Linked DNA regions of Homo sapiens: all the other regions are linked to region 4. Evidence: fine-mapped expression QTL. A gene starts in region 4. Each other region holds a variant in brackets. All regions are shown on one strand. Distances are from middle to middle. Region 1 holds the start of SESN3 (sestrin 3). Region 2 overlaps SESN3 (sestrin 3). Region 3 overlaps SESN3 (sestrin 3). Region 4 holds the start of LNCRNA-IUR (lncRNA imatinib upregulated).

Evidence for each region.
Region 1: its variant is fine-mapped to the expression of LNCRNA-IUR in whole blood (TOPMed, PIP 0.98).
Region 2: its variant is fine-mapped to the expression of LNCRNA-IUR in whole blood (INTERVAL, PIP above 0.99).
Region 3: its variant is fine-mapped to the expression of LNCRNA-IUR in whole blood (INTERVAL, PIP above 0.99).

Annotation. Positions count from the first base shown.
Region 1 is chr11:95,226,115-95,232,273 of GRCh38, forward strand. SESN3 (sestrin 3) reads right to left here and starts at 5,088. Exons shown (of 10, transcript NM_144665.4): 1 at 4,669-5,088. The coding sequence starts at 4,746. It overlaps LOC100129203 (a long non-coding RNA gene), which reads left to right and starts at 4,072. Exons shown (of 6, transcript NR_110295.2): 1 at 4,072-4,381; 2 at 5,011-5,459; 3 at 5,938-6,062. RefSeq lists silencers at 4,642-4,951, 4,962-5,111 and enhancers at 5,467-6,106, 6,107-6,159. The variant C/G (reference allele first, on the strand shown) is at 3,983.
Region 2 is chr11:95,192,533-95,198,691 of GRCh38, forward strand. SESN3 (sestrin 3) reads right to left here. Exons shown (of 10, transcript NM_144665.4): 2 at 925-990. Among named protein-coding and RNA genes, the nearest start is that of SESN3, 36 kb to the right of the region's middle. The variant G/A (reference allele first, on the strand shown) is at 3,577.
Region 3 is chr11:95,181,817-95,187,975 of GRCh38, forward strand. SESN3 (sestrin 3) reads right to left here. Exons shown (of 10, transcript NM_144665.4): 5 at 3,440-3,676; 6 at 2,604-2,778. Among named protein-coding and RNA genes, the nearest start is that of LNCRNA-IUR, 34 kb to the left of the region's middle. The variant T/G (reference allele first, on the strand shown) is at 2,908.
Region 4 is chr11:95,147,140-95,153,298 of GRCh38, forward strand. It overlaps LNCRNA-IUR (lncRNA imatinib upregulated), which reads left to right and starts at 3,400. Exons shown (of 3, transcript NR_110303.1): 1 at 3,400-4,609. RefSeq lists a cis regulatory region at 170-800, enhancers at 3,186-3,727, 3,728-4,269, 3,870-3,999 and a silencer at 4,520-4,629.

The sequences.
Region 1 (6,159 bases), 79 kb after region 4:
AAGTGAGTATTAACCAAATTACTCAGTATGTATTGAAATATATTCCCATAAGACGGAAAGAACTAACATAGTCTGGGAAAATGGAAAAATATATGGACTTGTCCTTTTCTTTCTTACACGGTTTATAAAGTTCATTAACACACATCTATCTCTCTCCAACTATACAGCAATCTGTAAGGCAAGTAAAAATTATCAACATTTTACAGAGAAAACTCTGCTTTGAAATCAAAAGATCTGTTAAAGACCTAACTGCAACCACATCTGTGGCTTCCAGTATCACTACATTAGTAGTTATGTTTTCTATTTATTTAGGGTGGGGAGTTGGGGGAAGCAGCAGAACACTTTTTACAAATTAAATCTTCTATTGAACCTGAACTATAAAGCATATAAATATACCAAGCAACTTTCAAGTATTTTAGTAATAAAGTTACAACTACTGATAACAATAAATTTGTGTTCTCACAAGTAAACATTTAACTTAAGTAAATATGGAAGGAATTCTTTTTAAAAAGCCAGTTCCTTCACAATCAATGACAATCTTTCTCATACATGACACAGTAACAAAAAAAAATTCAAATATCTGTACAAAGATAGCAGAACAAATTGTAATTCAAGACCTGCACAAGAATAATTTTGTAATGAAAGATAATGGTGTTAGACTCCAGTTATTAAAATTATGTGTACATATTTGGGGGTACCCATATTTTTAAATTACAGTTTTAAAATAAGTTAAAACATACTTAAAAATTTAATGCAACTCAAGCATTTTAAAACCCCAAAGAATCTTAAGGGTCCATACGAAGCAGTTTGAAAACCATTGCATAAAGGTTTGCCATCACTAATTAACTACTTGATCTCTGCTTAGGATATTTAAGATAATCAAGTTAAAAACTGCCTTTGACAATCAAAAATATGTAACACAAGAAAACTGATTAACCAAGGCATAATGTAACTAGTGGTCCACAGATAGAGCAAATACATTTTATTGGCTAAACCATATAAAGTTGCTATTACTTAACAATTTTGACTATAAAAATGAGGCTCATATAGTTCAATCTAGTATTTTTCTTTTTTTTTTTTGTCTTTTTTTTTGAGACAGAGTTTTGCTCTTGTTGCTCAGGCTGCAGTGCAGTGGCGTGACCTTGGCTCACCACAACCTTGGCTCACCACAACCTCCGCCTCCCAGGTTCAAGTGATTCTCCTGCCTCAGCCTCCTGAGTAACTGGGACTACAGGCACACGATTCCACGCCCAGCTAATTTTTGTATTTTTAGTAGATATGGGGTTTCACCATGTTGGCCAGGATGGTCTCGATCTTTTGACCTCGTGATCTGCCCACCTTGGCCTCCCAAAGTGCTGGGATTACAGGCGTAAGCCACCATGCCCGGTCCTCAATCTAGTATTTTTCATTTTGACAGTATCTTTGTTTATAAAACCATCAAAAAGATGTCAAAATATATGATCATATAACAAAGTGAAAAGTGCAATAACAATACAAAGATATATCACTATAACTATCTTAACATTAAAAAAGTTTAAATGTTAGATCCTCTAAAGAGCACAAAACTATTCATTTAAGTAGCACTAACTGCTCAATACCCAAAGTACATTGGAATATGCCACTTTTTTATTTACTGGAAGATGAGTGGACTGATAATTACCTACCTTCCTCAATGCAGTTTGACACATGACTTTTCAAATTAAAGGATTATGTTCTTCTAGTTATCACTAGAATTTCTTCAAGTAAAAGATTAAACTTAAAAACTCGTTAACTTTACAAAATAAATAGAAGCATTTCCTCTTTTATTAAAAACTTTACTGAACTACCTCATTGACAATAGAGCAAGTTAGACTTAAGAGTTAGGGATTTCAGGATAGTTTTGATGGTTAATTTATTTATGGATATGGTTTACCTCTCCATTCTTTTTACTGTCCTAAGGTTACCAAATTAGGTACATTCAATATTTTAATAAGTCTCTTTATTTTGGAGGATACTAAATCAAAACCGTAAACGGACTTCTAAGAATAAATGTAATTCTCATACAATATATAATTCAATATTCAGGCATTGGGTTAAACCATATTATTTCATTTGAAGGTGAATTCCATTCCTTGTGAAGTTCCCCTAAAATTCAACACACTGCAACAAATTAAGCCACCTACTGAGAGAATAACACTTTCTGTCCCATATAAAGGTGACCCTTCTTCCATCATTATATAGAAATATAAAAGCAAAAGTAATTCACACTGGATGAGCATGAGTTTCATTCTTCCATTATGAATTAGACTGAACAAACATTCAAAATACTATGACTCACTTGGCTACATTACTGAACACTTTATTAAATGGAAAACAAGATAAACTCTAAGAATCACATTTTGAGAGTTATAGATGACTTTTAACTTAGAGTTATATCAACAAGAAAAACATGTCTTTATTAGAAATAAACTTTTCATTGTTATTTTAAGAATGATGAAACATTTAAAATGCTACATACTGATTCTCTTAAGAGCACTTCAAAGTGGCACTCTTTAAAAAGCTGCAAATGTTGCCAAGTCATGTTATAACTGGCTCAAAGAATCCTATTTCCATTAAGTTATTTCATGCCACTGCATGAATCAATATTAAATACCTTGGAGTTACTAAAAACTGGAATACTGGCAGAGATGTGCTCAGCAATTATAAAATACGAAAATGTGAATACTCTTTTTCCACGTTTCTTTTAATAATGGCTAGAAATGAGGATGTTCTTTCTAGGTAAACAGAAATAGTTTCCTAAAAGCTAAAGGAAAGATGTAATATCTTAAATGCTAGCAAAGTGTCATGGATCCATAGCCATAGCTCTCTCAAAAGAAAAATGAAATACATTTTGAAGCCTAATATTACCTCCAAACATTTTATTAGCCTAACAAATTGCCAGAGCCATTAAAAAATTTTTTTATCAAAGTCAATACAGTGCTCTTTTTCCTTATTCAATTAAAAAGCATAACTTGCTGTCATTTTAACCAGGCTGCACTTTAATCAAACATGTCTTAAATGACACATTTTTTCATGTCAAAGACATAACATAAATTTAAAAATTAAGAAATAAATTTTTTTGAAAGCTAAGTTCAGATGACATCTGGCCCTGCAGTGAAAGAGTTAACATCCAACTAAGCTGATCTGCACTTCTGATCCATTACATTTCTCACAAGCTACCCTACAATGAGCTGAGCAAGTATCAACTGTAATTTGATCCTAGAGTTTATGGAAAAAAATAACTGCACATACTCAACATGCACATTTAATAAAAATCTGTTTCAAGAGAAACATATCCAATAAACACAATTTAAGGCATATTTAACTGTTCAATTAACCTCAAATCTGCAATCCCTTTGCTCTCACGCTCTCAAATAAAATAGGAAGAAAAAAAAAAGCAGCAGCCCTACTGCAGGGAAAAGAGGCTTGAAAAACAACTTTGATTGGCACTTGGCCTGACCCACAGAGGAAGAAAAACAGTTTTTGGACAAAGAGCGCAAATATTTGAGCTTGCTTACTTATGTGCTTTTTTCTTTCTTCCTTTTTTAAAAAAAAATGTAGAAAGAACAATCCCAAAGTGAACCGTATTTAGAGATGTTGACTAAAAACGGTACCATATTCATCTCCGCTTTCAGTCCCGATGCATTTGCACAGCTCAGCAATTTTAATTCATTTGTAGTGAACAAACAGAAGCATCTCACCTAACGTTTCCACTTAATAAAATGTAAAAATAGAGTTTGAATACGAATAAACTGATTATAATATTACTTTGGGGCAGCTGTTAAAATCTGATCAAAAAGTCTAGAGACCTTTTTTTCATTCCCTTCCCCATCCCTCTCGCCCTTCCCCGCGGGGCGATTAAGCCAAGTAAGCTAAACAATACTGGAGTAAACTTTCTATCAGTCACTCTAGGAAGCAGCAATAAACTGATGGTGCGCCTCATTTTTCTGGATCAACACGGGGG[C/G]AGGGGGGTGCTAAGGAGGAATAACCCACATCCACCTCAGTCTTCTCCTCCCCCAACCCCAGCCTCAGGAACTGGCCAGGTCGAATTGCATTTCCCATGGGCATAAAGTTCAAGATGCTTTACTGGTTCCTTTCGAGACTGAACTACAGACACAGGACTACCATCCAAACAATTTGAAAACGGGGGTTGTTGAGCAAGGCGCGCAAGGCAGAAGCAACCGAATAAACAAAAACAACACTCGCAAGAGTTAGCCACAGCAAAGAGGGGCCAGGTTCCTCGGGATCCGACCCAGCTGCTCTGATTTCACACCGACCTCCATCAACAGCTAAACTGCACAGGGAGGAGGATCGAACGGATCCCTCCCGCCCTCCGCCCAAGGAGCCGACCCGGGGTAGCAAGGTAGGGAAATGAGCCGTAAAGGAGAGCAAAGGCACCAAATAAAAGGAACAAGGGAAGAAAAAATATCCCAACCCCTCCAGACTTGGGTCTGTCCCGGCGGAAATAAAAAGCCGCAGTAGTCCAAACCCTCCTGCCCTCAACCCACGCCCCCTTTCTCAGTCCCTGCGGAGGGACGGTGCCCGGGGATCCCTCTCAGCCTCCCCCAGTGCGCGCCCGGGGACGAGCCGCCCGAGCCCCGGCCGGCAGGAAGCGACCCTCGCCGGCAGGACCCCGGGCCGAACCCGTACCTTCCGCAGCACTTTCCGGCAGTTGGTACAGAGCAGGTAGTTGGCGGCGGCCGACGGGCTGCCGCCGCCCCGGTTCATCGTGGCTGCGGGCGCCGAGGCGAGAGCGGGCGGAGGGCCGGGTCCGGGCTGTCACTGCGGCCACTGCAGGGCCGGTCCGTCCCCCCGCCGCCAGCCGCGATTCCGCCTCAGCCTCCTCAAGGCGGGATGTCGGGAGGAGAGGCGACTGCCTGAAAGCTAGCGGCACTGCCAGAGGCGACCACCGCGGCAGCTGCCCCAGCGACGGCGGAGACGGCGGCGGCTGCTCCTCACCGGCCCGTTGTTCCACCCGCCCCCATCTTCCAGACCCCCGCCCCCGCCAGGCTAGGACGAGCAGCCGCCACCGCTGCCACCGCCACCACCGCCGCCGCAGCGCCTCAGTGCGGCCCCGCCTCCGCCGCCCCACCACCTTCACCACCTCCACGCTCCGGTACCGCCCCTCCCGCCAATCGGACAGCTCCGGCTACGCCCCCAGGGCGCTAGCCCGCAGCCAATGAGCAACGAGAGCCCGACTGGGAGTCGCGCCGGCCAATCGCAGGGGCCGAGGAAGCCTTGAATCTCCGGGCAAGTTAAGTTTATCTCCGAGGCTCGGAACTGAAGGGAGGTGGCGGTTAGCTAAGTAGTAGGGTAGCAGGGAACAGTTTGCTCTCCTCTGCCAATAAGAGGACGAGGGTGTGTCATATGCAAATATACTGCCCTCCAAGCCCCACCCCCAAGATAAGCTACGCCCCCTTCTCTAGGTCCCTGCAGAAGTGGTGAGGAGAATGAGATAAATAGTTGGGAGCTAGAGCTCGCTAGAGAGTCTAAGATTGAGCTAAATATTTCCTGATCTCTCGAGAAAGGGGGAGGGGAGTGGGAGGATTAAATGTTCCTTCCTTCAGGGCAGTGGTTAGGCTTTCTCTCCACCAAAATCTAACTTTAGCTGTAAAGAAGACTGCAGTTATGTAGTACTTTGTATCCAGGGATCTCAAAGAACTTTACGCATCATTTATTGTGAACCTTGTTTTGCAAAGATTTCAGTTACTTGAGGCTTGGGAGGCGGATAGGGGATAAATGTCTGAGTTATATATATATTTACGCAAGTAATCGAGTTTGAGGGGAGAGACACAAAACCTCTGGTTTAGCGGTTTCCTCTTGTTTGTGAAGCACCTTCTAGCAGTTATCTTAGAGATGTAAGTTCATTTACTTGTCCAGCACTAAAAGGCCAAAGGGGCTTGTTTTCTCACCCAAAAGACCTTCCTGAGGCAGCTGTTCGGATACATGCAGAGCACAGCGCCCTGCTCAGAAAGGAAGGTTCAGAGAACAAATTGTCGTTTAAAACTATTGGGACAAACCTACCTCTTCTAAAGCTTAAAATGGTAAGTCAGGGTTTTAGCGTCCACGTTCTGCGGAGAGAAGGCAGACTTGACTGGGGAAAGCGCAGGCTGACCGAGTGTGGCGGGACAGACGGGTAGG
Region 2 (6,159 bases), 45 kb after region 4:
TCCAGATCCCCTAAAGCCCAGACTAATGGTCTTTCCAAACATCCACACTGCTATTAAGAAACTGTTTACTCTTCAGAGCTGGCTTCGCAGTCTGAAAAATAAGTACACATTATACAAAGGCACTACTAACTTAGGGAAATTTAATCCCAAAGGAAACATAATGTTTGAAAAGTATAAATTGTGAGGAAATGTTAACTACAATGGCGTAACTCATTATGGAGCCAAGTATACTTTGATTTGCTCACTTCCCCACCATTTTGTCAACTACAGGGACCAAGACAGTTAAAAATATAATGGGATCCAGATGAACCACATATAATTAGAAGTAGAATATTTGTTATTTTTGTTTTGCTTTCCCAGCATAAGTTTGTTCTAACTGGATGCTTAAGATACATTAATAGATTCATATGATGCAATAGATCCTAAAAACCAGATTATCCTCAAATATATACTGTGAAAAATGACTATGCTTCAGGAAGTCTTTATATGTAGTAGGCAACTTAGAGCAGCCCCAGGCTATCTGAGGAAAATAGGCATAAGCAGGATAGCTTCTCCAGTGCATGGTGCATCGTCCTCACCGAGATCAGCTATTGTCACTGAGCTCCCGAAATGTTACTGTCACTTTGGATCTGCACTTAGGTGGGAAGGTCACTAAAAAGGTGATCTGATGATGAAAGAACTGTTGACTCTGGCAATGATCAGGTATTATTCTATTTCTACTAGTCCCTTCTTTTAAGACAATAATTGGCACTCTGTAAATATTTGTGAAGCTGAAAAGAAAATATCTCCATGGTTTTCTGACATGTGAACAAGAAACTCAAAAGCAAAATTCATTCCTACTTTCATATTAACAGGAGATATTCTTTGATACAGTTAAGTTATTTTTAAATCTTACTTTTTATATTTTAAGACAGATAAACTTACTTCCTTCTCTGGAATAAAGGCACTTGGTCCTCTTGTCAAGGGTTGAGACACTCTGATTCTTTTATCCTATTTTTAAAAGAAAAGTTTTATGTATCAATGATGACTTTCTAAGAAATGTTAAATTTGTACACATTTATTGCTAAGGTACTAAAATAAAGAGAATAAATAATTAAATTATGTGAGACCAGAGTAAGTGTTGGGTTTCAGATCAAAGAAAACCCATAGGGCCACTGTATGGATGAGATAATGGGGCAAACACCTACCATAGTGCTAAGTGCAGCACAGCCTCCTCAAAATGTCATATCCCTTAGTCACAGTCTACACCATAAACTTTAAGCCCACATCTGACATGCCTGAAAACCATTAACCTCCATAATAAAATAGTGTTTTATAGTAGTATACTGTTAGACATCAATTTGAAAACTAAATAAAAGGTTAAATTCGAAGAAGATTACATAACAACCCTTCAAAGCAATTACCCAGTCTGCTTTTTTTCCCCTAAAATAGCAATAAGCATATCTAATATGAAGTTTTGAAACTTTAAGAAAAATGTAAAAATTAGAGAAGGAGAGGTTAGTTCAATATAAAGAATGGGGAACATAGTAATTCTTATTGTTCCACTTGCTATTCTATTGGTGGTATTAACAACTGACAGATTGCCAATGGTATGTCTGAATGCTGATTTTTTTTTAAGTTTTTAAAAATTTGTTAACTTTTTTAGATTGAAAAATATTTTAGTATCCTCATTAAGTGCGATACAAGCCATAAAAATTCGAATCAGAGAATAGGGTCCTTCTTCTCACCCTCCCTTTCTCCCCCCATTACTAGGTAACCTGAGTCTTTTTTGGTCCTTACAATCAAACAGCCTATCAAACACAAAATAGTTATTTATATCTCTTAAATCCTTTACTTCATTAGGAACCAGTTACAAAACAAATTGGTGAAAGTAGGCAGTCAGGCATTTAACACGATTTTTTTGAGAGCCTAATCAGATACTGTGATAGACTTTGAGGATACAGGGTGAGGAAAACAGATATGCTCTCTGCCCTCATGAGCTGTACACACAATCTTCATCAATTTTGGGAGTTCTATTGAAATAAATATATTAAACAATAATACTCTTAACCTGGTAAAGTTTCAGAAATAACTTTATATTTCTAGGTTATATTTACAAAATTATGACAAAGGCCTCAATCTCCTGGTCAAGTACACTGGAGGACTGCATGTTAAGAGGATGAAGTCAGGATTCCAATATTGGTATTTCTTGTCTATGTCAACCAAATCTAGACTTACCCAGAAAGATAATTTAAAGGAAAATAACAGGTTTCTTCCTTTTGCTAGTCTCCATAAGATATAGAAAAAAAAATTTCGAACACTCTCTGTATAACTCAATGAACTACAAGGTTAAAGTAAGCTATGATCGCACCACTGCACTCCAGCCCAGGTGACAGAGTGAGACCTCATCTCACAAAACCACCACAACAACAAACTTAACGAAGTAGTATATGAAAAGCAATTTTCTGGACAACTATTCATTTCAAATGAACAAAGCAGCTGGAAAAACTGATTATGAGGAAAAATTATGATTATGAGGTTTGAGGAAAAAAATTTCAACAGGGAGATAAATCGAAATCTTTAAATAATAAAAAATACATAAAATTTAGAGAACATGTAGGGGGAGCAAAATATAAACTCACGTTAAGATGGACAATGGGATTTTGGAAACAAAAAATGATTTATTAAATTTGTTGATAAAAATCACAATTTGATACAGTTAGCAACTAAATTTACCTTTAAATGTTTCATATTATTACTTTAAATATTTTCTGGAACAGGTGAGATTTAAATCTGAAAAAAATATTTTCATTATAAATGGAACTGAAAGGTACTGCATTTAAATGAATATAACATCCCTTAGTGTTTAGCAATTGAAAAGAAGCAACTTAAACTCAATTTCATTTGTGTCAACACTGATTTCTTCATTTATTTAGCAAACATTAATTGAGCATCTACAATGTGCTAGGCAGTGAGGACACAAATAAGAATTAGATTGGCAGAATGCATATAACCAGCTACGGCGTATGACATATACCATCGCAGATGCATACAAAAAGTGATGAAAGAAGACATCATTTTAGCAATTATCATTTACTTAAGTCATTTTCCTACTGTTGAACATTTTAGTTATATACAGTTTTCACTATTATAAGTAATCCTGTGATGAACACCTTCATATAAAGAGACTTGGGACATATTTTGTTGTGTTTACGATAGTTTCTTTAGGAAGATTCCCAGAAGTGGACTTACTATGGTTTGGGTTATAAATATCTTCAAACTTCTTGTTGCTTACTGCCAATGTGCTAACAAAAATGTCTTACCAATTTTATTTTCATCGGCTGAGAAAATGTCCACTTAACTCACTAATTTCAAAAGTAAAAAGCAGCATTCAAAAACGTGTTTGAAGCGTTTTATTGTATGCTTCTTTGTAGTAAAAAGTTCTTAAGCAGAGATGTGGATCAGATCTGTGTTTTTAATAGTGTTGAGGGTGATGTAGACCCTGGGCCTGAGAGGGAAAAATCCCAGCTGGGAAGCTCTGGTGATAGTCCAGGAGAGATAAAATATGGCCCGACCTAAAATATTTGTTTATATACC[G/A]AACATAAAAGAAAACTAACACAATTTTTAAGTTTTAACATCATGTATTCTTCTTCAATTATATTTTTTAATGTTGCCATTTTTGAAATGATCAGTCTAGTTTCTGCTTCTGCATAAGGAGAATCTTTTCTGGCAAGGACTCTACTACTGTATTGTCTCAGTTGGCTGCTCTGTCTATTCATAGGAAGGTGAAATACAATTTTAAAAATGATCACAGTTCATAAATTCTACTCTAAACACATTTCATTCTGAAAATTTGTTTCCACCCACTTTTCTATCTCTGCATGCTTTTAAAGTCAGTAAGATCAAATACAAAAGAAATAGGATAGTACTATATCCAAAAGATTGATTTTTTTTTTTTTAAGATAAGACCATAAGCTAGAGTTCTGGTCAAATTATAATGCCTTTCCTCCGCCTTTCTTTCAAATCCCAAATGTCCAAGGACCAAGTTCCTACTTCACTCATACTAACTTTTCTAAAGTCTCTAGACCTACGTTCCCCAACATGGTAAGCATCAGCCACATATGGCTAAATTTAAATGAATTAAAATTAAATAAAGTTAAAAACACAGTTTCTTAGCCACATTAACCACATTTCAGATGCTCGGCAGCCACATAGGACCACGTGTACTCTACAGGACAGCGCAGACATTTCCATCTTCCACTGCAGACAGTTCTACCGGACAGTGCTGCTCTGGACTCATTTGGTTTTGCTTTTTTAAAATTGCATTTTCAGACATTTTTATAACTTTTTGAAATGTTAAATGACTGCTCCACAGAGTTATTCATTTGATGGTCACACCTACTCAATCCCAGAACCAAGCATTTTAGTGTAATTGCAGAAATGCTCTGAACCAATCAACCTATTTGTCCTATTTGGGCAAATTAGGAAGAAAAAAAACTATCAGCCAGTTCCAAGGACCCTTGTCTCAATTTCTGCTTACATTACAGTCCCCAGAAAAGTATCAAGGGCACGCTCACTTTCCTTCCTTCTTTCTTTCTTGTGGTAATAAATAAATAACACCCAAGGTTTACCCTTTTAAATTAAGTGTACAACCCCAGTATTGTTAACTATATGCATGATGTTGTACAGAGGAGGTCTAGGACTTTTTCTTCTCACATAACTGAAATTTTATTGCCATTGAACAGCAACTCCCATTTCTCCCTACCCCTAGGTCTAGGAACCACCATTCTACCTTTTGCTTTTTATGTAAACACAGTCTTTAGATCACAGCTGAGATTCTCCCTATGTAATCCCCTGCTTTCTTACCTCTTTGCACAAGTCAAATCTACCTCCTTCTGGGCAACTCTCTTCTTTTTGGGCTTCCTTTTCTTTTCTTTTTTTTTTTTTTTTGAGACAGAGTTTCACTCTTGTTGCCCAGGCTGCAGTGCAATGGCACAATCTCAGCTCACTGCAACCTCTGCCTCCCGGGCTCAAGCGATTCTCCTGCCTCAGCCTCCCGAGTTGCTGAGCTTCCATAACACTTTACCACCCAACCCATTAACTTCTTTGATCATTTACTTTTATGTTTCCTAGATGTTCCTTGCAACTCCTTCCTTATAAATATTATTCTTTCAAGTCAATGTTCTCTTCTATGGCTACCATATTCTTTACACAAAACAAAATTCTACTCAAATTTGTTATGGTGACTATATTGTAGGGAAGACGATGGAGCAGATGAAGGAAAAAATAAGGGCACAGGATACGAAAATGAGCAACCCATGCAACTGCCTCCTGAATCTTTTTTATCTAGAGAACTCGCTAGCTCTTCTCCGCCCTCCAGTCTGGCTTTGGGTATTTTGTGACATAACCTGGATGCAACATTAGCACCTTAAAATCAACATGTTTAAAATGAATCTTCTATCTCAAACCAGCTGTTCCTCCTCACTTTCCTCTGTAGGTTATAAAATCACCATACATACCAGCAACCCTGGCTCAGATTCACAGTTATCTTGGACTCTTTATCCTAGGGGCCTGCATTCAAATGGTTGCTAAATCCTGTAACTGTCTTTTACCAACTAAATCTTTAAGTCATCCTTTCCACACCCCCTACTCAGTTGTAAGATTTCTCTCATGCCAAGAAACCTTTCCCCTCACAAGTGAGAATAATATCAATTCTAGACTGTAGCTTACCCCATTGTTGGGAAGCTTTGAGAAGATACCGCATAAAAATGTAAAACACACAAAGCATAATATAAAATATTTTTATTTTTCTTCTGCTTATTTTCCTCAATGTCAAAAAAAAAAAAAAAGAACCCAAAACGAAAACAGCTATATTTTCTCAACAGATGCTACTTGATTAGAAAAATTCAAGGATTGCTCTATGCTATAAGTGAAAATATGCAGTGGCTGCACTAATTTTGAGGAATAATATTGCTATGTTTTTCTCTAAGCATTTCAGCTAAAGCTACTATCTTACTTTTGGGAATAAATGAGTTTGATCATTTAGTCAAAGATCTAGTGAATCTTATACAATGGCTTTTAAATAATAAATCTTATTTATTTCTGTGAAAAACCAAAACAAGTCCTTGAGTTTCTTTCGCTGTCACTAGCCACATGTGCCTATTTAAATTTAAGCTGATT
Region 3 (6,159 bases), 35 kb after region 4:
TATTTTAAAACATGGTAAGTCTACACAAATGACTCAATTAGCTATTGTACTGAGTCTTTTTTCTATATTTTATTTGTGCAGCCAGCAAAGTTGGTACTGGCAATGATTAAGAGTGAAATATGTATTTTTATATATATGTGTGTATATATGTGAATATATATGTATGCGGAGGGGTATATGTATGTATACTGACATTATTTCCTTGAAATAGCCTCTTCTATTAAAATTAGAACATAATTTTTGGCTAAGGTCCAAGACTTTCTAGTCAAAATTCACTTTTGAAGGCTGTAGTCCCAGCTTAAAGTTCCAAGAAGGTAGAGACTGAAATCCAAAGTATATTTTTAATATTTCAAAAGACCTAAGAGAAATAAAACATTGATATTTTTCAAGCTTTAGTGATCTTAATGAAGCTCTTAAAAATTAATTTCTGAAAACACACAGATATTACTAACTTTAATATAAATGTTTACATTTTTAGACATTAGTTTACCTAGAAGGTTCATCATAGAGTCATTATTTTCCTTCAACCTCACCTCTTCTCTCTGGATGAATTTTATAATCAACTTTTAATGTCTGTTCCCAGTTATATGCTGATAACTTCTAAAATTTTGCCTTGACCTTAAAGCCCTCTCCTGATTTCCCATCTCTTCTACCCTTTGTATTCCAAGAGTGGCTTGCATACTAGCAGCACTGGCATTACTTGGAGGCTTGATAGAAATGTGGCCTCTCAGGCCCTACCCTAAACTGACTGATTCAACTTCTGCATCTCAACAAGATTCCCCAAGTGACTCATGAACACTGAAGTTTGAGAAGTGCTGTGCAAGACATTTCCAGACTGGTTGTTTTATAGACATCTCTACTCAAAATGTCCAAAATACGGTAGGTTACATATTTCTTAAGGTTAGCAAGATCCTTACAGTAGGGACTCTACCTACCTAACCAGATTTCTCTTTACACTACCTGTTTCATGATGTACGTCCTAACAACACAGAACCACTTGTTCTTGGACCCAGCATCCTGTTTCCTTACCATCGTGCCTTTGCTTGGGCCTGGATGCTGTTTACCATGTCCTCCTGTGCCCCTCAGTCATTACCTGACTTCCTCACACTCAACTGGGTTAAGATTTATCTTAGAGCCAAGGGCTGCAGGCATTCTTCCTCTAGGTTCCTCTTCTGCCTACACCCTTTGCCTATCAAGACTGGGTTCAGTGCCCTCTTCTAGGCTCCTATCTTTCACATTCTGCTATGAGTTACAATTATTTTTTTGCTACTAGAATGAGAGTGCCCTGAGAGCAGGAATCATGCCTTATTTAACCTTAAAACCTTAGTACCTAACACCATGCTGAAACTCTATCAGGTACTCAGTAAGTGTTTGCAGAGTGAATATTAAACCAATAATCCAAATACTAGGTTTCTTTGTTTGGAATTTCCTGCTGACTAGAGGCTCTGATTTTAGTGACAGTAATCTTCAATGGATTAAATTAATTGAAAGGATTAAAATGGTTACTCAATTTGGTAGATAAAATTTTTCATAAAAAAGATCATCAGGAGAAATGATAAAAAGGGTTCTTGTTCTTCCTGGTAAAACTGAGAACTACTGATCAATGTTTTATGTTTAACATTAACAAGTTACGGCTGAAACAATTCTCAAAATTTATGAGATTGATGAGTTTTAAGACAGGCAGTAGTTTTGAAGCCCTCTTTTAGATCAACAGAACTCTATTTTTAAAAAATATATTATGTGTGATCCCAGCTACTCAGGAGGCTGAGACAAGAGAACCGCTTGAACCTAGGAGACGGAGGTTGCAGTGAGCCAAGATCACGTCACTGAACTCCACCCTGGGTGACAGAGCAAGACTCTGTCTCAAAAAAAAAAAAAAAAAAAAGTTATGCACATAGATTACTTTTAAAGAGTTTAAACTTTGTATTGAGTCTATGCTATTTTAATATCATTTACTATGTGGTGTTCAATATCTTTTTAGTTGTAATTGAAAAGTTTATTTCCTATTTCAGTCCTTCGAGTATTAGAAAAACTGTTTTCAAGACTACAGCAAAGAATCTCAGCTTTTAACACAGGATGAATTCCTCCAAATTCAGTCTAAGAAAATGACCTAAATAATACATTTTTATAGAATTCCAAAGAAATGTAAATGCAAATGCAGTGTAATTTTAGAACTAATCTGGAAAAGCAGCAGTGTGAGAATAATCTTCCCACACACCCCCCACCTACAAAAAAGGCAGTTTTTTTTAAAATTTTATCTATTGAAACAATATTTCACTTATCATTTTTAAAAAATCACAAAAGTAGGATAAATTAAATATGTCTATCTAACTTTATAAGTAACTGATCTGCTTTAAATAACATTTTATCCAGGATAGAGTATGAACTACAAAGCTGAAAGTTTCTCTCAACTCAATCTGAAATACATTCAAGGATGAACCAGCCTGAGGGAAAGCAATAGCATGAGGGTAAGATAGAAGAGGAGAACTAAATAAGAGAAAGATGGTAGCAGAATCATTTTTACATATCCACATGGAAAACACTGAAGTTGCCCTGTCAGGGTTCTAAGAACAACTAAAAGGCAAAAAAGTGCAAAAAAGCACCTGAATGAGGAAATGAATGAAAAGTATCTCCAGAGACCACAAAAAGACTTTCTTTCTTCTCCTTTTCAAAACGAGTGCTCATTTCTTCTTGAGACGCCTCTTCATCTTCCCTTTCTTCTTGAAGTCTTTTCATCCTTTCCATTAAGGCCTCTAGCTCACTTAGAGAATCCACAATCTGGAAACAGATAAGATAATGTTGGGTGCTATTCATACTAAAAGTGTTCCAGTAAATATCTCCATCTCCAAATGTCACCTTACTATGTACAGCGGAACAGGCACAGTTATGAAGTTCTTAAGTCGGTTT[T/G]TCACCAATTTCAAAGGAAATCATGACAGATTCCAACATTTTCAGAAGTATGATTTTTTTTTTAGTTATAAATATAGAAGTTTATAAGTATATATGTGTGTGCATAAAATCTACAATTCTAGCATTTGGTATATATTAAATATTATAGTTTAGTTTAAAAAAATGAGGCAGCACAATTGTTTTACTTTTTGCTGTCATAAGGTATGTTTTCCATTGGTTGTTCCAGCATCTTATACATACAAGTATATTGTTTTGGGATCTACTGTCCAAAGGGTCTAACATTAAAAGCCTATGATCACTAGAATGCATCACTGTTTAGTCTTTATGATTTGCAGTAATATGTATTTGCTTTAAAAGCCTCTTTAAAATAAATCAGAACTTCAGGTACCAAATTTTTACAGTAATAAAAATTATGCAAAAATATTTTAAGTATATAATATCCTATCTAATTGGAGAAAAATTCTCTCTAGATATTTTTAATATTAGAAGTTTAAAGCAAAAATAGTAAAGAAAAATAGCTAAGAAAACTAACCCCAAAGTTGCTGCCTGAAAGAGATGCATTCTCTATGTTGTTGTCATTAGCAAGATCACAAACGCAGAAATTGTTGACTGATATTAGCCTGAATCCATTGGAGATTTCTGGATCTCTCTCTGGATTGATACCACTACCAAAAACAAAGCTTGCCAAAGCATGATAATGTGCCAGGAGGACCACAGCATGTACCAGTTCAGGCAGAGACCAATTATTTTCTCCAGTTTTGACAAGTTTCTGAAATAAGAAAGCAAATCAGAGCAAATATAAAAATTCTAGAATGCTACAAAGAAATTTCAATGAAAATCTACCAATTTTCATATATCCACTTAGAGTAATAAAACTTAAAACTCTCTTTTAAAAATGTTTCACATGTTAAAGATATGATTTTGGCCAATGCGCCATTAAAACTATCATACCTAACAATATAATTACATTGTAGTGTCTTCTAAATCCCTTATTATACAATAAATCTTCTGCTTCCAAATCATTTTTTATATAGTATGCTATTTTAATGAAATACTTTTAGAGAATCAAAGAACACTGGAGCTAGATAGGACTTTAAAGATTATCGAACAAAACCATTCATTTTAAGGTATATTGGAAACTTCATCTCACAAAATCACGAAAAACCCCAATTCAGCAAGTCAAGTTTCAGTTATCCTTTAGATACCTTCTAATGGAGAAAGAACCTGCAGCAGATGACAGAAATTGTAGAATACTACCTCACATCTGAATAAGAATTTTAAAAATTTCCAAGCACTTTTTCATATTCTGTATTTCACTTGACCCTCCAGCTGAATGATGGATCACAAATGAAGTCATTAAAAACAGTAATTCCTCCACTTTGTCCAAGAGTGAATTCCACCAATTAATCCATCAGGGATTCTTTCCCATCGGTGTTCATTTTCTCTCCCTTTCTCTCTCTCTATCTCTCACTGTGTGTGTGTGTGTGTGTGTGTGTGTGTGTGTGTGTGTGTGTGTGTGGTGTATGTAAGGGGGAATCTCATCCCTCTCTTTCCCTCCTTCCAAATCTAAAACTTTCATTTGGCTTACTTAATGGCTAAAACAAAACAAAACAAAACAAAATAAAAATAAAACTGCTTTCTTTTGCTTTACTACCCACTATTTAACTACACACCATATATAATTTAATGTATTACCAAAAGCTCAGGGAAAAGAAAAGAAAATCAGTCAAATTCTATCATCCTATGGCCAGGGGAGATAGGAAAAGATCTGTTAAAGAACAAAATTATAGCTAGATAGAAGGAATAAATTCTAGTGTTCCATACCACTGTAGGATGACTATAGTTAACAATAACATACAGTTTCAAATAGTTAGAAGGAAGATATTGAACATTCCCAACACAAAGAAATAATAAATGTTTGAGATGATGGGTATCCTAATTAATCTGGTCATTGTACATTATATATTATCAAAATATCACTATGTACCCCATGGATATGTACAATTATGTGTTAATTAAAAAATAAAATTTAAAAAGTGATCTTAAGACAAAAATATCATTATTATAATCTGTAATAATGTAAATAAAGAGGGTCATTATTGAATAATAAAAGAATATACACCAGAAAAATATACTTGCTTTACATCTGTATGTACCTAACCTTGTAGCCACAAAATATACTAAATGGTTGCAATATTGACTGAAAAAAATTCTACCACTCTAACTTTTACATATTTTATTTTTTATAAGCAATTATATAGTTACAACCACACATATCTATATTTTTCTGATTTTCAAATTTGACATTTTGACATGTTCATTTTTCATTAGGCCACAGTGCCATATTAATTTTTAAGCAAGGCCTCTCCTGTATATCAACAGATGTATATAACTACTTCTCCTTTCCTATACCATTATTCATATTCTAAATTTGTTTTGTTTATTTGCTTCTATAAACAGCATCTTCATACTATAGTTTTATTCTTATTTTAGAAACATTTCCTAATAGGATTTTTAGAACAAAGTGTATTAATATTTTTATGACTTTTGATAATACTGCCAAAGAGCTTTCCAAAAGGACTGTTAGAATTTACAATGCCCTCACCAATCTCTGCAGGATTATCATTAAACCTGAAAGGACAGCCAACACTCACCATCTCTAATTTCTTGCCTCACATTCATTTCTACTTTTAAAAATTCATTACAATCTGGTTTCTTTTTCAAGCAAACTCCAGAAGCTACATTTACTAATATTACACATGACCTTCCAAATGGCCAAATTTGACTATTTCTTTTTAGTCCTTATTTTATTTGATCTCTGCAGAATTTACATTGTTTACCTTCTCCCTTCCTGACATTAATCTCTCTTGACTTCAACAATTCCACATTTTGGGGAGGGAAGTACTCTTGCTACCCTGAGAAAGATCTTTCTCTATTGCTGTATTCCATCCACAATCTTCCTTCCTTGTACAGTATCTCCTTGGATGGGCCATTCATTCCTTCAACCTGACCTTTGCTTATCTGTAAACAACTATCCAATTTTACTTTTAACTCACACTTTATCTTGAGTTACAGACCTGTATTTCCTTTAGTAAGTGGACATCACTTTGTGGATGTCATTTTTAGTTGTTGTCAGCCTGTATATGCTCATGTCATGAAGAAGGACACCTTAGTCACTCTCTTGTCCCACCCACTTTCTCCATCCTCACATCCTGCCAGTCACCAAAGTCCTACTTACTCTCATGCAGAATC
Region 4 (6,159 bases):
TATTAAACACTCAGCCTATTAAAAACTTAGCGTTGCTCATGAAACTTGAGAAAGCAGATTACACTGCTAATTTTCCCTGATGTAGTTGTGTGAAATAAATTTGAATTAAATGAATCTCTGGCATTTTTCTGAACCCACACAAAAAGAAATGCATTTTTTTGGTGGCTGTTTTCTTCTTCTTCTCTCTCTCTCTTTTGTTTTGTTTTATTTTGGTGCCTCTAGGAGCTGGGGCCTCAATGATGAACAAGATCCAGGCATTGGCCTTAAAGAGCCCACAGGCTGGTGTTCAAGATCCAGGCAAACCCCTCCTTCCTTGACAAGGGTCAGCTTTGAGCAAAGATGGGTAAGTGGATGTGTAAACAGCCAACTTAGGTATATGGAGCAAGAAGGCAAAGAGCTGGAGAACTGCCACTCAGAATACAAGTTGATGCACAGAAAATATATCAGCAGAATCCAGAGCACCAGGAAGCTGAATCAGCAGAGCTGGCCGATAGTGAGATGACTCACCCCATTCCATGCAGGGGAAATGCATCTGTCTTCTTCGTATCCTCTCTCCCTGCACATATGACACTGAGCAGAAACTCTTCATGTGTTTGCCTCTGGCCCTGGGCTGTGTCTTAGTTATCTTTCTATCCCACTTCCTGACATTACCATCTACCACACTTTCTGGTGCGGAGCGAGGCTTAATAAATAATAGTTGTATTAAACAAGCATTCAAGAAGAAATGTCCTCACTAAGTGGGAGGTTGAACTAGAATAGCTCCCAAATTCTGTTCTACTTGGAGATTCTATGATTATGTAGACAGTCTGGCATGGGATAGGTGCCCACTAAATATTGATTCAGATGATGCCTGCTTAGTTTTGCAGTTATTTGTGCCCATGTTTTATCTCCCCATATAATCAGCTTACTTTTTTCTGCAACCGTATTAATTATTTACGAAGCACATTAGTAATCAGTTTGCATGCATTGTCTTCCTTGATTTCACATAACCCTAGGAGCTAGTGATTTAGTTTCTATTGCTGCATAACAAACCACTCCATAACTTAATGGCTTAAAACAACCATTTATTATTATCTGTCTTGGTTTGTATACTAACTGGGCTCAGTTTATTCCCATTCTTTTTGGGGTCCCAGATGTGGGCTGGTGCTGCAGTCTTCAGAAGGCCCAAAGGTGCTGGATGTCAGGAGAGCTCACTCGGTGGGCAGTTGATGCTTGCTGTTGGCTGGGACTGTTAGCCAGAGCACCTACACATGGCTTTCCAAGTGTTCAGGCTTCTCACAGTATGGTGGCTGGGTTGGAAGAGGGAACATCCCAAAAGACTCACACAGAATGACTTAGCTTGTATGAACTAGCCTTGGAAGTCCCAGACCATCACTTTTGCCACATTCCAATGCCCAAGTAAGTCCCTGAGGCCAGCCCAGATGCAAAAGAAGGGGAATTAGATTTCATCTGTTGATGGAGGAATGGCAAGGTCATTTCTGAAGAGCAGCTGAGATGGAAAGTATTTTGTAGGCATTTATGGAAAATGCCATCTGCCACAGTAGTTACTATTAATATCTCTTTCTACACAGGAGAAAATTTCACAATGACCTAGCTAAGTTATATGATTAACCTGCTTGTTCAAGATCAGCCAGATCCAGATGTCATCTAATTTAGTAACCATTGTACTTCACTTAGGATAGTGTTCTAAAACTTTAATAAGGAAGGAGTCACCCCTTTCAAAAATGCAGTATTAGTATCAAGAATATGAAAACATAAATTCTAGTAAAATTTATAAAGTAGAAATATAAATTCTAGTAACACTTGGGATGCCATGTTCAATAAATATTACTGAAGGAGGAGCTAACATCTGCTGCACTGCTTCAGTGGTCCAGGCACTCATACACTATATATAAACTCACTTAATCCTCACAGTTATCTTTTCCCCCCAGATGAAAGTGAACTTTAGAGGGATTAAATGCCTTGCCCCAAACCAAGTAACCACTTAGCGACAGAGCCAGGGTTTGAACACAGTCATGTCTCAGTCCACATTCCATGTGCTTTCCACTGAGCTCCATGTTACAGGTTGGGCTCCCCAGGAATCAGTCTCTGAGATGACAGTAGCATGCAGGAAGTTAGCAAAAAAGTGCTCAAGGGGAACACACGTGGGGAAGGGGAAAACTCAGGATTAGGCAAAGGAGAAGGTGGGCAGGTAGAACTAGAGCCAAGCAAATGCCAGCCAGCCTTTTTGGAGGGTTTGGGTGGATAACGGACAATGTCAAAAACAGCATTAATTTTCAATCCTGGGTGGTGGAAAGACTATATATATGTATGTATATATGTATGTATGTATGTATGTGTATGTGTGTATGTATGTGTGTATGTATGTGTGTGTATGTATGTATGTATGTATGTATATGTATGTGTGTATGTGTGTGTGTGTATGTATGTATGTATGTGTGTATGTATGTATGTGTAATTTCTCTATGTCAGACACTGCTGGGTTTGTGCTCCCCTCTATAATCTACTGATTGTGGGACTTCACACGAGGTACAAAACATAAGTGACCTAATAAGCCCTCTAGACAGGGCTTCAGGGAGGAGCCAAGGCTGGCACATAGTCAGAGGGCAGGAAAAGTTCCACTCCCTCCGTGTGATTAGGAGGGCTGCTTTGTTTTCTTCCCAGGCAGAGACCTCAAAGAAAAGTGTGACTTGTGGCAATCATTGGAATGCTCTAACGGGAGGGAGCCCTAAGCTAAGGGGAGGGGCTGTATCAGCCCCGGGAGGGCGAGGGACAAAGGGGCATTGTTTCCCTGGAGGGCAGGCTGGGGCAAGGCTGACTCCACTGCCGGCCTGGGCGTGGGCAGGTTTGCTCCCGGGAGGAGAAGGCCTCCATCCTGGCCCACAATAGCCAACCCAAAACAGTTCTGGCAAAATTAAAAGACGCAGGAAAATGCCAGCGACCGTTTATTTTCTCCTAGGGTAGATGGGGGAGAAAGCAGCTCCTTTTTCTGGGCTGAATGGAGTCTCAGGGAGGGGGCTAGGTGACAGCATCGCCCTTTCCTCTCCGGCTATTGCGCACCTTCTGGAGCCTCGCTCAGCCTGCTCCCTCCGGCGTAATACGCCAATGCTGCTACCCACAACGCACAGACCAGAAACCAGGATAGACAGAAGCCTAGAATGGCCTGGCATCGAGCAGGCCCAGCGCAAACGCAAGGTCTCTTCCTCTCCTTTCGGTGAACCCCACGCCCAGTCCCGAGAGAGAGAGCGGATGCTCATTTCCGAAAGCTGGCAATCCTGCAGTGGCCACTGGAAAAATACATATACGTGTGTGTGTGTGTGTGTGTGTGTGTGTGTGTGTGTGTGCGCGCGCGCGCACACAGTGCATATCGTGCCCATCTACAAGGAAACCTGGAGGCTCCACAAACAACTTTGAGTCCCGGGAGGGCGGAGGTGGAGAGAGATTCTCCGCTTGGATAAGGGCGGCTGGATAGCCGAGTACTCTCTTTTGGGGCTGTTGGCCGTCTCCGGAGTCTCGGGAGCGCCTTGATGTCCCTTCCCAGGGCTCGGGTTCCTTTGAGAGAATCAAGAGGAAGGTGTTTTTCACTAGGACTCGCGGTGGGCCCCACCTGCCTACCGTGGCCGGCCGGGAGCTATTACAGCAGGGTCTGCCCGTCCGACGACGGCGGCTCCAATCTGGGGTCCCGCCGGCGCCGACCCCTCAGCTCTCTCCCGATACCTGCTGGCCTCTCTCATCTTTGGTGGCACTCGCCGCCACGGGGACGGTGAGATCAAAGAGGTAGACCTAGGCCAGGAGGGACTGCCAGGGCTCCTTCCCGCGGGCCAGCCTCTCGTCCTTCCTCCCGGGACGGGGCTCTTTCCCTTTCTCCGGATGCGGGCCTTTGAGAGTCAGCGACGCCTTAGACTCCTCCCAGAAAAATGCACCCTCATCTACCCAATTCTGCCCTACCCTTTGGAGCTCCTGGACCCTCTAACCGCTCGGTGGGGTCAGAGCCCACCCCCGGAAGGGCCGCTGGTCGGGGACTGGTTCGCCCTCTCCTGGCCTCCTCGGACCAGTGCGCGGGGAGGATCCCGCTAACGCCGGGCGCCTGCAGACCTTGAGCGGCCTCGCCCTGGTGACCTCCCCGGGAAAGGCTGGGCGGTGCTTCCACAATGAGGGCCACCTGTTAATTTGCACGAGAAAGTGCTGCCGAGGGCCCACACGTGCGAATCCACCTGTGGAGTGCGTCCCCTCTCTGGGGCCAAGGCCTAGGGGAGGCCGAAGCGGAGAAGTTGCCTGAAGACTGGGAAGTAAGAGTAGGGGCGTCGGAGGAATCGAAGTTGCAGTGACATCAGGCTCGGACAGCCGGCGGACTCCTCGCAAGGTGATCGGATACTTCCGAGAGCCCCACAGTCCTCCTGGGCCTTTGCCCTCGCGTCTGGGATGCGCTCGGGCGCCCCCAGTCTGCGATGCGTTCGTACCTCCAGTAGGGTGACGTTTTCGCCGGGCCCCTCTGCGAACAGTCTCCGCCCTCCTCCACTGTGAGATATTTCACAGTTTCACCCGCAGAGGGCAACCTTATTCCAAGTTCCCGAGCGCCCTAGGCCTCTTTCTCCTCCCTGCCTAACTGGTGAGGTGGGACTTCAATGCCTTTTAGGTTTACAGTCTTTTCCTCCCCACGGCTTCTCTTTCCTCCCCGTCTCAGGCACTGGGCATTTCCAGTCGATCCAGCAGGTCTGGCTTCTCTCACATATGCAGTAAGGGTTAGGGGAGAAGGTCCCAGCTCCTCTTGTCTCTAGCAGAGTGTAAACTGGCTCTGCTGAGGAGGTGGCTGTGCTTTTATTCCTTCTCCTGAGAACTGTTTATATATTAAGGAGCTTCACAGCCTCCAACATAAGGAAAGCAGGTAGGAACTGATCATATAACGCTTTGTAAATGTTTTAGACTTTGGCTTTAATGGGAAAGAAATGGGGAGCCATTCGTGGGTTTTTGAGCAGCAGGTGGACATTGCTTTTCATAATGACCACGCCAGCTGCTGTTTGGAGAATAGACTGTAGGGGTCACTGCGCAAATTGGAGGCCGCGATCCAGGTGAGAACCAGGTGAAACAGAGCTCGGGCCATGGAGTGGCGCTGGAGGTAAGGAGAAACACTCAGACTCTGGGTATGTTTTTTGAAAGTAGGATAAAAGGCCGGGCGCGGTGGCTCACGCCTGTAATCCCAGCACTTTGGGAGGCCAAGGTGAGCGGATCAAGAGGTCAGGAGATCGAGACCATCCTGGCTAACACGGTGAAACCCCGTCTCTACTAAAAAAAAAAAAAAAAAAAAATTAGCAGGGAGTGGTGGCAGGTGCCCGTAGTCCCAGCTACTCGGGAGGCTGTGGCAGGAGAATGGTGTGAACCTGGGAGGCAGAGCTTGCAGTGAGCCGAGATGGCGCCACGGCACTCCAGCCTGGGCGACAGAGCGAGACTCTGTCTCAGTCAATCAATCAATCAATAAAAATACAAAACATTAGCTGGGTGTGATGGTGTGCACCCTTAATCCCACCTACTCGGGAGGCTGAGGCAAGAGAATAGCGTGAACCCAGGAGGCAGAGGTTTCAGTGAGCCGAGATTGCGCCATTGCACTCCAACCGGGGCGAAGATTTACATATATATAAGATTTTCTGTCTGATTGTTTTTTTGGGTATGAGAAAAAGACAGGAATCAGGGATGACTCCAAGCAGCTGGAAAAACGGAGATGCTGCTGGCTGAGATTGGAAGATGCTGGGGTAGAGGGATAAGACAGCTTAATGTTATATATTTTAGGTTTGAGGTGTTCATTAGAAAAACAAGTGGAGAGATTGATTGGGCAGACACACAGGTCTGGAGAGGGCTGGGCTGGAGATAGAAATATGGGTTGCCATGATACAGGCATGGGACTGAAAGCCCCATCAGTCCCTTGGAGAGATCATCAGAGAGTGAGTAGAGACATAGCAGGGCGAAGCCCTGAGCCCCGGTTCCCCCAGCATGTACCTGCAGTCTGTTTCCTCTTCTCAACTACAATTCCCATGGTCTTGTCTTGTTCACAGAACCTGCTCAAGGAGCATCTATTAAATGAAGGAACCCAACTTTCATCACATGTAAAATAAACATCATTATAATCCTACCTCATAAGGTTGTTGTCAGAAAAAGTTAAACGTC